Regions from separate parts of the Homo sapiens genome. Here region 2 is linked to region 1. The links come from fine-mapping of genetic effects on gene expression. A gene starts in region 1. The other region holds a variant in brackets. All regions are shown on one strand. Distances are from middle to middle. Region 1 holds the start of DNM1 (dynamin 1). Region 2 has its middle 6.8 kb from the start of LCN2.

Region 1 (5,512 bases):
CTGTCAGCGTTTCCATTCCGCAGATGGGGAAATGGAGGCCCACCCACCCACACGTCCCTGTGCCTGGTGCAGGACCCGGCTGTCAGAGGATGTGCAGCGTCGAGATTAGGAATTGGGCTTTGGAGTCTAACAGCTGCTGCCCTTTCTGAATGTGTGACCTTGGGCAAGGCATCTAACCTCCAGGGTCTCAGTTTCCTCATCTGTAGGATGGGCATCATGGTACCTGCCTCTTGGGAGCTCCTGTGAGCCTATGAAGGACTCAGCATAGGGGGATGCATGGGATGGGCTCAGTAGATGCGGGCTGAAATCACCAGTTGGTCCCCTCCCTACCCCAAGCCTGAAGCACGCAGCCTGGCATGGGGCAGGAGTTCAGCCAACATTCAAAGGACGAGAGGTAGGAATATGGTTTCTCCATTCTAAACTGCTGGATATCCCTGACTGCTGGCCCTTGGGGAAGGGGCCCGTGGTGTGTCTCTTGCCTGTGTCTCTGCAGCTCCGGGGGTCATGTGATCAGAAGGGGGGCTCTGCAGGAGCCATTGGAGAGACAGATGCCTTCCCCTCTGCTGACCAGATGGGCACGGCCGCCCCCACGGTGGCCTTCCAACGTCCCACACACACATGGCTCCAGTCAGGCCCTCTCCCTCTCACCTCTAGGGCTGGCATGGGTTTCCCAGGACATTTGAGGGGCAGGAACAACCACCCAGTCCCACTGTCCATGTTAGAGATGGGGACACTGAGGCTCAGAGAGGGCAAGTGACTTGCCTGAGGTTTTGCAGCAGAACCTGGCTTGGACAGAACTGCTGTACCTCTGCGGACAAGGGCCCCTGCCTCCCTCTCCCATGTGCCAGTCACTTTTTTGGCCCTGAAGGTCATTGGAAGAAAGCAAGAGTTTCTGAAGAAGATGGGGGGGAGATGAAAGACGGGGTCAGTGTAAACTCTCTCACTTCATCCCCCAGTCTGCCCAGCCCCCCAACCCACCTCCAGTACCTGGAGAGCTCCTATCTTTCTTCTCTCTCCTCAGCACCAGAAAAACTATTTCTGCCTCCCTTTGGGGGTTTGTGGGGAGCCTGCGGGTCACGACCCTGCCTGCCCCGCTAAACCCACGACCCTTTGTCTTTGCGGTTGTTCCTCTCTCCGCCACCTAGGCCTCTCAGCGCCTTGTGGGATCAGAGGCGGGAGGGGGATTAGGTTCTGCAAATGGCTCCCCCCTCCCGCCATCCCTGTCTTAGTCATCTCTGCCCTCTGCCGCCTCTCCCTCCAACACGATTCCTCTGGCCAGGCCAAGGGGAGGGCGACACTGACAGGCGCCCCCCACCCAGGGGCCGTGGCGAAGCAAGGGGCCGGCTGCTCAGAAAAGGATAAGAAGTGGTTTCTCCTCCCCTCTTCCCTTCCTCATCCTGCAGCCCGCGCCTCCCCCCTCGCCGCGCTGCGCACGGATGGCGGCGGGAGCCGCAGAGGTGTGTGTGTGCTGGCGGGAGGCCGTGCCCGGTCCTCGATGCCCGCGGGACTACGTCCTCTTCTAGGGACTGGGATGCGGGGGCTGACCTCTGCCACGGCCCAGGAATTCCCATGGGGGTAGGGGGATGTCCCCCATTGAGCCCGGTGTGGGGGACGCTGCCCCCGGGTGCTGCCCGCTCCAAGGGACTCCCGGAGCCCAACGGAGACGCTGAGTAATGCGGGCTCTCTCCATGCCCATGTTGGGGGCGGGGGGCAGCTCTTTGCCCGGGGCTTCTGGCAGAGCGTTGTCTGCCCTAAAGGATGGGACGGAGGAGGGGGCGTGATTCGGTAGCCGGAGGCTTGACGACGTTTGCAGACTAGCGGGGGGCGCTGCTGCCCCGAGGGGCTCTCGTGGTGGGGGGAGGGCCTCCTCGCTCCGGCTGGGGGTGGGGGGCGCGCCGGCCGCGGGTGCAGCGTCGGGGGCTGCGAGGTCGCCGCGCCGTCAGTGCCCCGGGCGGGGACTCCAGGGATCCCGGGGGTCGGGGGTCGGCGCCTGGGGGCGCGCCGCGCCTACCTGCCTACGAAATTCTCGAGCACCGAGCTCTTGCCGGCGCTCTGGCCGCCCACCACAGCGATCTGCGGCAGGTCGAGGTCCGCGTTCTGGCCGATGGCAGAGAAGGCGTCTTGCAGCCGGTTGACCAGCGGGATGAGATCTTCCATGCCGCGGTTGCCCATGGCTGCGGCGGGCCCCGCAGGCTGCGATCCGGCTGCCGCTAGCGCTCCCGGCTCCGACTCCGGCTCCGCCGCTGCAGCCGCGCGCCCAGACTGCCTGCGCCGCGGGGCCCCCGCCCCTCGGGGATCGGAGCGAGCACCGCTCCCGGACGCCGCTAGGGGGAGCCCGCGGCGCTGCGGGCCGGCCGCCGTGCGCAGGCGCCGTCCGGGGCATCATGGGTGTCGTAGTTTTCACCTTCTGCGGCTTTTGGGGTGCTTTAGCAGTGTCTGGGGTGCGCGGATGCTGCGCAGAATATATTTGTCAATGGGTTGGGTCTCACTCCTAGTACCAGGCCTCTTGGAGAGTGGTCTGGATGTTTCACTCCATCTTACCGATGAGGAAACAGGCCTGGAGAGCAGATGGGCTTCCTCTGAGGTCACAGCCTCCTGACCTCAGAGGTCAGAACTCCGAGATGAGTTCCCCTTCATCTCGCTGGCTTCTATCCCTAGATCCTGACTCTGATCTCCAACATGTCCTCTTCTGCCTTTGGTCCTCAGTTTCCTTGTTTCTAGAAGGAGAAAGTTGGAACATGAATTCAACAAATATTTACTAGGTACCTGCTAGAAGCCAGGCCCTGTCCTAGGCACTGAAGATTCAGCAACGAATAAGACAGCCAAGGCCTCTGCCCTCATAGATCTTGCATCAAGCTGGGGAGACAGACAGTAAATAAGTAAGCAGATAAATGAAATAGTAAAAATGAAAATAATTCATAGTAAGAGGGATGGAGGAAATAAACAGGGTGAAAAAAGGTATCTTTGTGGGTGTGGAAAGTTCACATTGGCTTGGCAGGAGTCGGGGGTGTTCTCTGCAGAAGTGACATTTGAGAAGAGACCAAAATGATGAGAAGGAGCCAGCAGCAAGCAGATCAGGGGAAGAGCATGCCAGGCTGAATGACCAGCAAGTGCAGAGGCCCTGACACCTGGAGGGCCCTTCTTGGGAGAGTTGGAAGCTCTTGTCCTAGAGAGTGGAAGTCTTTGCTCCAACCCATCAGGATGGTGGTAAAACAGCGTAAAACAGTGGGATTCAAATCCAGGGCTCCTACAATCCTACCCTGCGTACCCTTTCACACAGACAGACCATGGGGCCCTGAGCCCAGCCGTCCATCTCTGCATTTAAGAAACCTAATTAGTATTCACGGTGGAGGCTAGGAAGGGAAGGCTAGCCTACACTGTGCTCATGGGGAGTCGGTGAGTCATTTCCCTGCGCTGTGAACAGTGTGGGGGCACTGCTGACAAAGTGGTCTGTGAATTGGAGACTGTTCACTTACTCATCCATTTAATGCGTATTTGTTGAGCCAGGTACTATGCTAGACTCCAGAGATAAAGCAGTGAGCAAAACGGACAAAGTCCTTACCCACATGTGGCTGACAATTCAGTGGAAAAAGACAGACAATATGCAAATAGGGCAATAACGATGGCCCTGTTAGATGGCGTGCCCTGCAGAGCAAGAAAGCAGGGGCGGGGTAGGGTGGTGTTGCTATTGTGAAGATGGTGATCAGAGAGTGACCCTTGTGGGGAGGAATCTTCGAGGCAGGCATGGGGAACAAGCAGGCCCTCTCCCTGGTAGCACCAGAGAGTGGATTAGGAGTCTAATCTGGGCCTTAAACAAGCTGCGTGACCCAGGTCCCTCCACGTCTCTGAACCTCAGTTAACTAATCTGGATAATGGGGATAATAATAGATCAAATGCCTGTGTAGGGCACAGCCCAGGCCTAGTGCTCAGGGGGCCCTTATTAAGCTGCAGCTGTGAGGATGCCAATGATAACAGCTCACCAGACAGCTGGAGCATCAGTGCCACACAACTTGCATGGAACCTGGCAGCTGTTCCATGCCAACCTGTTATTATGCTCTGAGGACAAGAGAAGGCAGAGATGGAAGCCTGGATGACTGGCACCAGGAGGGGGTGCAGTTTATAGATGTTTGCCTAGAGGGCATCATGGCTGGGCTTTTAATATTATTTATTTACTTATTTATTTTATTTATTTTTGAGACGGAGTCTCACTCTGTCGCCAGGCTGGAGTGCAGTGGCATGATCTCAGCTCACTGCAACCTCTGCCTCCTGGGTTCAAGCGATTCTCCTGCCTCAGCCTCCCGAGTAGCTGGGACTACAGGCACGTGCCACCACTCCTAGCTAATTTTTGTATTTTTTGTTTGTTTGTTTGTTTTTTGAGACGGAATCTCGCTCTGTTACCCAGGCTAGAGTGCAGTGGTGCGATCTTGGCTCACTGCAACCTCCACCTCCTGGGTTCAAGCAATTCTCCTGCCTCAGCCTCCCAAGTAGCTGGGACTACAGGCTCGTGCCACCACGCCCGGCTAATGTTTTGTATTTTTAGTAGAGATAGGGTTTCACCGTGTTAGCCAGGATGGTTTCCATCTCCTGACCTTGTGATCTGCCTGCCTCTGCCTCCCAAAGTGCTGGGATTACAGGTGTGAACCACTGCGCCCGGCCAATTTTTGTATTTTTAGTAGAGATAGGGTTTCACCATGTCGGCCGGGATGGTCTCGATCTCTTGACCTTGTGATCCTCCTGCCTCAGCCTCCCAAAGTGTTGGGATTACGGGAATGAGCCACTGTGCCCAGCCTATTTATTTATTTATTTGAGACGTAGTCTCGCTCTGTCTCCCAGGCTGGAGTGCAGTGTCGTGATCTCAGCTCACTGCAACCTCCGCCTCCCAAGTTCAGGTGATTCTCCTGCCTCAGCCTCCAAAGTAGCTGGGACTACAGGCATGCACCACCACGCCCAGCTAATTTTTTGTATTTCTTTCTTTTTTTTTTTTTGAGACAGAGTCTTGCTCTGTCGCTCAGGTTAGAGTGCAGTGGTGTGATCTCAGCTCACTGCAACCTCTCCCTCCCTGGTTCAAGGAATTCTCCTGCCTCAGCCTCCTGAGTAGCTGGGATTACAGGTGCTCGCCACTGTGCCCAGCTAATTTTTGTATTTTTAGTAGAGACGGGGTTTCATCATCTTGGCCAGGCTGGTCTCAAACTCCTGACCTCATGATCTGTCCGCCTCAGCCTCCCAAAATGCTGGGATTATAGCTGTGAGCCACCATGCCCAGCCAGCTTTTATTATTTTTACTTTTTCCCCCCTAATTACAATATTGAAACTTATTGTAAAACCAGACTTTACACAAGTATTTGAAAACCTCTGGTCATCCTCCCACCTAGAGATAACCACTATAGCTTAGGGATCGTTCTCTGGCTTTGTTTTTCATATATGCACATATTCATTTTGTTCCATTTTGTTTTTACAGAAATGGGATTATACTAAGTATCCTATACTGCTGTATCACTGATGCCAGGCCAGC
Region 2 (5,000 bases), 60 kb after region 1:
GTGGACGTCAAGGCTCTGAGCAGGGTCTAGGGTGGACACAGGCAGCGGCAGGCAGTGGTGGATGCCAGGCTCCCATGGAGCTGGGCCGCAGTCCCTCTGTCATAGGCCTCTGTCCCACATGGTCCTGGTGCTGCTCAAAACCAATGCTCCTCCCAGCTCTGCACCCCTCCTGCCCGGACTGCAGCCCCCAGCACCCCAGGAAAGGGGCATCTCCACTGCGGCCACCCCTGCGTTACCCCACATGCTCCCGTGCTCCCTGCTCTCCAGGTCCTTGGCTGGGCCTCCGCTGGCACCATCAGAGGTGGCTGGGTGAGAGGACCGGTCTGGCTCTCCTGAAAGCTGGTTCTCCCGAGAGCCCAGGACAGTCCAGGAGCGTGCCCAGCCCAGGGGGCAGGGTAATAGGTTCCGGAAGGGTCAAATGAGACCAAATGTCCCTGAAGACATCCCTGGCTTCAGAACCACAACACACAGCCTCCTGCCTGGAGCCCCTCTGGTGCCCTGCGGGGGCTGAGGATGGAACAGGCTGCAGCCTCTATGCCCTCCACTTCATCCCAGTGGTGGATGGACATCGCAGACCCAGCCCCCACTCCTCCTTGGCAGCACGTGTTTATTTCAGCTGAGGGGGTGGGTTCCATGGCTGAGCCTCCCTCTTTGGGGGAGGGGGACATGAACAAGGCTGTGACAGGCAGCGAGGACCAGATCTCGCTCCAAAGGGAAAGCGTGTCCACCTTCAAAAGGAGGGGACAACTTGGACCAGTGCAGAGTTGGGTGAGGGGAAGGGAGGGCAGTGCCAGCGGCAGAGCAGCAGGAGATGCCGAGAACACCCAGAGACCTTGGCCTTCACCTGGCCACTGTCCTTCTCAGCCCGATTCTCAGAGGGCCCAGGTCAGAGGTCTGAGGGGGAAGTGTGAGTTTCTGGGTACAAAGTTTGGTGGCCCAGACCTTGGGCCGGAGGGAGGACCACTCCCTGCCCTGTCCTGTGACTCTCAGAATCACCTGTCAGGAGGGGGAGCCCTCTGCATTGCCATGATGGGCAGGCCCAAGGCTGCAGGGCACAGGTCTGGGTGCCTCTCCCTGGGCCCAGACTCCCTCAGGCCTTGGGTGGGCACTGGCCTCTCCCAGGTCACTGCAGTCCCAAGCGCCCCTCCCTGGGAGCTCAGCCTGGATCTGCCCCAACTGAAGCGTCTCGTGGTTCTCCAGGTTCTGCCTACAATCCGAGGTCCCCCTGTCCTGGGCCACCTCCCCACACCACTGGGTCCCACCTCTTCCTGACACTCTTGGGTCCCCTGTCCTGAACTACCTCCTCCCACACTGCTGGGTTCCCTTGATTCAGGTCCCTTCCTTCCCATACCTCCGGGGCCCCTGGCTTGGCCACCTCTTCCCCACATCCGCAGGCCACACCCTTGGCTTTCTCTCAAGAGTTCACTTTCTTAACAGTGAATTTCCTATTGTTAGCATCTTCTGCAATCTAGAGAAGCTGAGAATTTCCCAAATCATCAAATTACTACAGCAAATTACCACAAAGTTGCAGTGAGCTGTTATCACACCACTGCACTCCAGCCTCAGTGACAGAGCGAGACCCTATCTCAAACAAACAAACAAACAAACAACATCCAAAAGGAATGAGAAAATTCTTGCCCTTCAGGAGAGGAAAAACATCTGGGCCACACCACCACCACCAACAACAAAAAATAGCTTATGTGTCATTTGCCTTTGAGTAATATACATACGTCATTCATTCACCTTAAAAATCAGGCATTAGGTACTGTAACAAATGTGCACCAAGAAAAGAACAGGCATTAGGATGTTAACCATTATGAAATTAAAAAAAATAATAAAGAATAAGATCCTTAATCATTTGCAAATACTTTTTTTTTTTTTTTTTTTTTGAGACGGAGTCTCGCTGTTAGCTAGGCTGCAATGGCGCGATCTTGCCTCACTGCAATCTCCGCTTCCTGGTTC[A/G]AGCGATTCTCCCACCTCAGCCTCCCGAGTAGCTGGGACTACAGGTGTGTGCCACCATGCTTGGCTAATTTTTGTATTTTTAGTAGAGATGCACTTTCACCATGTTGGCCAAGCTGGTCTCGAACTCCTGGCCTCAAGTGATCTGCCCACCTCAGCCTCCCAAACAAAGTGCTGGGATTACAGGTATGAGCCACCATGCCCAGCCTTTGAAACCTTTTTCTACATAAAGTTACATTTACATTATTCATTTACATGGATATATTTTGGGGGCCATTTTGCAGCCAGCATAGTCTCCTTGACCCCATAGACCCCTTCTCCCCACACCCCAGATTCCTCTTGTCCTGGGCCACCTGCACTACAGACCTCTTCACAAAGGGACTTGGACTCTTCTCAGGAGGGGACCCGGGTCATGGGCAGCCCCGCCTGTGTAGACAGCTGCAGCTGGGCTGCTCAGAGAGCCCCCAGCCCAGGGCTGAAGAGCTTCAGGGCTCAGCTGTGTCCCAGGCAGGTGCTGGGGCTGGGGGGTGGGAGCCTGGCCCTTCTCCCTCCCACTGTCTCCTTCTCTTCTTTTTTTTTTTTTTTTTTTTTTGAGACTGAGTCTAGCTGTGTTGCCCAGGCTGGAGTGCAATGGCGTGACCTCAGCTCACTGCAACGTCCGCCCAGATTCAAGCAATTCTCGTGCCTCAGCCTTCCTGAGTAGGTGGGATTACAGGTGCATTCCACCACGCCCGGCTAATTTTTGTGTTTTTGGAAGAGCTGGGCATTGTACCATGTTGGCCAGGCTGGTCTCCAACTCCTGACCTCAAGTGATCCTCCTTCCTCCACCTCCCAAAGTGCTGGGATTATAGGCATGAGCCACCGTGCACAGCCTGTCTCCTCCTCTTCCTGCCTCCCCACACCCTGCCTCATCCCCTTCCTGTGTAGCTCAGGGTACATACAGGCACCGAAGTGCACATCCAATGTGTCCCCGCCTACTAAATGTGCTGTGAGCATTACAAGCCACCCAGAGGGCCTTGCCTCCTAAGCAAAGGCCTCAAAGGTCCTTCCTTCCTGACCTGAGTCTCTCTCCTTCTAACTAATTATCCTCACTAGGAGCAGGCACTAGGAGAGAGCCGCTTCTCTGCCTCCTGCCCAAAGAGGGCCATTTCAGAGAACCACAGTAGAGGAGGAGCTGACTGCCAGCCTTGGAGCTTGTGGACTGGGGTCCAACTATTGCCAAGAAAAGTCTAAAGGTGAGGGATGGGCTGGATCTGCTCTTGCTGGTCAGTGGAGAGGAGGCTGCCCAAGGTCTACCACTCCCCAAGGGCAGGCAGGGGTGTCTGGTCTTCCTGTGGCCCAAGCGAACCTTGGGGAAGATCCATTCAAAAGCAATCCTGGCTGAACAGGAGTCTGGAAACTTTGAAGACCTCCTTCTACCAGACAACAGGATCCAGTAAGAAACAGACTCTGAGGCCGGGCATGGTGGCTCATGCTTGTAATCCCAACACTTTGGGAGGCTGAGGCAGGCGGATCACCTGAGGTCAGAAGTTCCAAGACCAGCATGGCCAACATGGTGAAACCCCATCTCTACTAAAAATACAAAAATTGGCTGGGTGTCATGGTGCACACCTGTAATCCTAGCTACTCAGGAGGCTGAGGCAAGAGAATCACTTGAACTCGGGAGGCGGAGGTTGCCGTGAGCCAAGATCGTGCCACTGCACTCCAGCCTGGGTGACACAGCAAGACCCTGTCTCAAAAAATCATAAAATAAAATATGTTTAAAAAGAAGGAAAGAAAGAAAACAATCAGGAGAAGAAATCAAGAAGAGAGAAAGATCTTCCTATTTTATGGGACTATCGAAGCCAAAAGTTGACTCTTGGAAAAGACTAATCGAATAGAAATTTGGAGAAATTTCTCATGACAAAAAGATATAAGACACAAATAAACAACCATAGAAATAAAAAAGGAGGCCGGACGCCATGGCTGACTCCTGTAATCCCAGCACTTTGGGAGGCCGAGGTGGGTGGATCACAGGGTCAGGAGATCGAGACCATCCTGGCTAACACGGTGAAACCCCGTCTCTACTAAAAATACAAAAAATCAGCTGGGCGTGGTCGCGGGCGCCTGTAGTCCCAGCTACTGGGGAGGCTGAGGCAGAAGAATGGCGTGAACCCGGGAGGCGGAACTTGCAGTAAGCTGAGATCGCGACACTGCACTCCAGCCTGGGCGACAGGGCCAGACTCCATCTCAAAAAAAAAAAAAAAAAAAAAAAAAGAAATAAAAAGGGAGCAGAACTATAGAGTTCTAGAGCTATTAAAAAGGTAACGAAAGAATGCAATAAATAAGGAAATGGGAAATTTCCCAGAAAACTATAACTTACAAAAGAGATTCAAGAAGAAAAAAAACATCTGACTTCTGGCAGCCCCAGCCCTGGGGCTACCCGATCTGACAAAGCCTTTTCCATTGTATGCGTCAGAGAGAGAAAAGATGGCAGCTGGACTTTTAACCCAAACTGTGGGGCCCTGGCTGAGGCCGGTGGCCTAAGTCTCTAAACAACTAGACAGGGTTTCTAAAGGATGGCCCCCCTGTTTGAGGGCCTTGGCAGAACTGCCCTGCTAGTACAAGAAGTAAATAAGCTGACTCTTGGGCAAAACCTGAACATAAAGGCCCCCCATGCTGTGGTGACTGAGAGCCAGCCCCTCTTCCCCCGCTGGCTCTTAGGATCCGCGGTGGACTCACAGCCTGTTTACCATATTGTGAGTAAGATCATCTCCCCCTCTGGAGATTATGAACTGTTTCACAGACGGGTGTACACCCTCGGTGTACAGAGGGTGTACACCCGTCTGTATTGGGAGTAATATCATCCTCTTCCTCCCTGAATATTAAGAACAGTATCACAGGGGTGTTTCTACTCCCTGCGATATCGCGTGTCATATCCTCCTCTCCCACGTTGCAATTAGAAACAATATGAGTGGGGGCGTGTCCACCTTCTGTCATATTGACAGTCATATCATCTTCTTCCCTCCAGCATCGTGGGAGCAATATCCCTGGGGGGTGTC

What was found. PIP is the estimated chance that this variant, and not a neighbour inherited with it, causes the effect. A credible set is the group of variants that fine-mapping cannot tell apart.
Region 2: its variant is the best candidate, but not a certain one, in a credible set for the expression of DNM1 in whole blood (TOPMed, PIP 0.79).

What each region holds. Positions count from the first base shown.
Region 1 is chr9:128,200,131-128,205,642 of GRCh38, reverse strand. DNM1 (dynamin 1) reads right to left here and starts at 2,264. Exons shown (of 22, transcript NM_004408.4): 1 at 2,012-2,264. The coding sequence starts at 2,172. It also overlaps a transcript of CIZ1 not described here. RefSeq lists enhancers at 478-1,050, 2,482-2,581 and silencers at 1,339-1,633, 2,202-2,421.
Region 2 is chr9:128,140,161-128,145,160 of GRCh38, reverse strand. No RefSeq gene overlaps it. Among named protein-coding and RNA genes, the nearest start is that of LCN2, 6.8 kb to the left of the region's middle. RefSeq lists a cis regulatory region at 2,862-3,035. The variant A/G (reference allele first, on the strand shown) is at 1,963.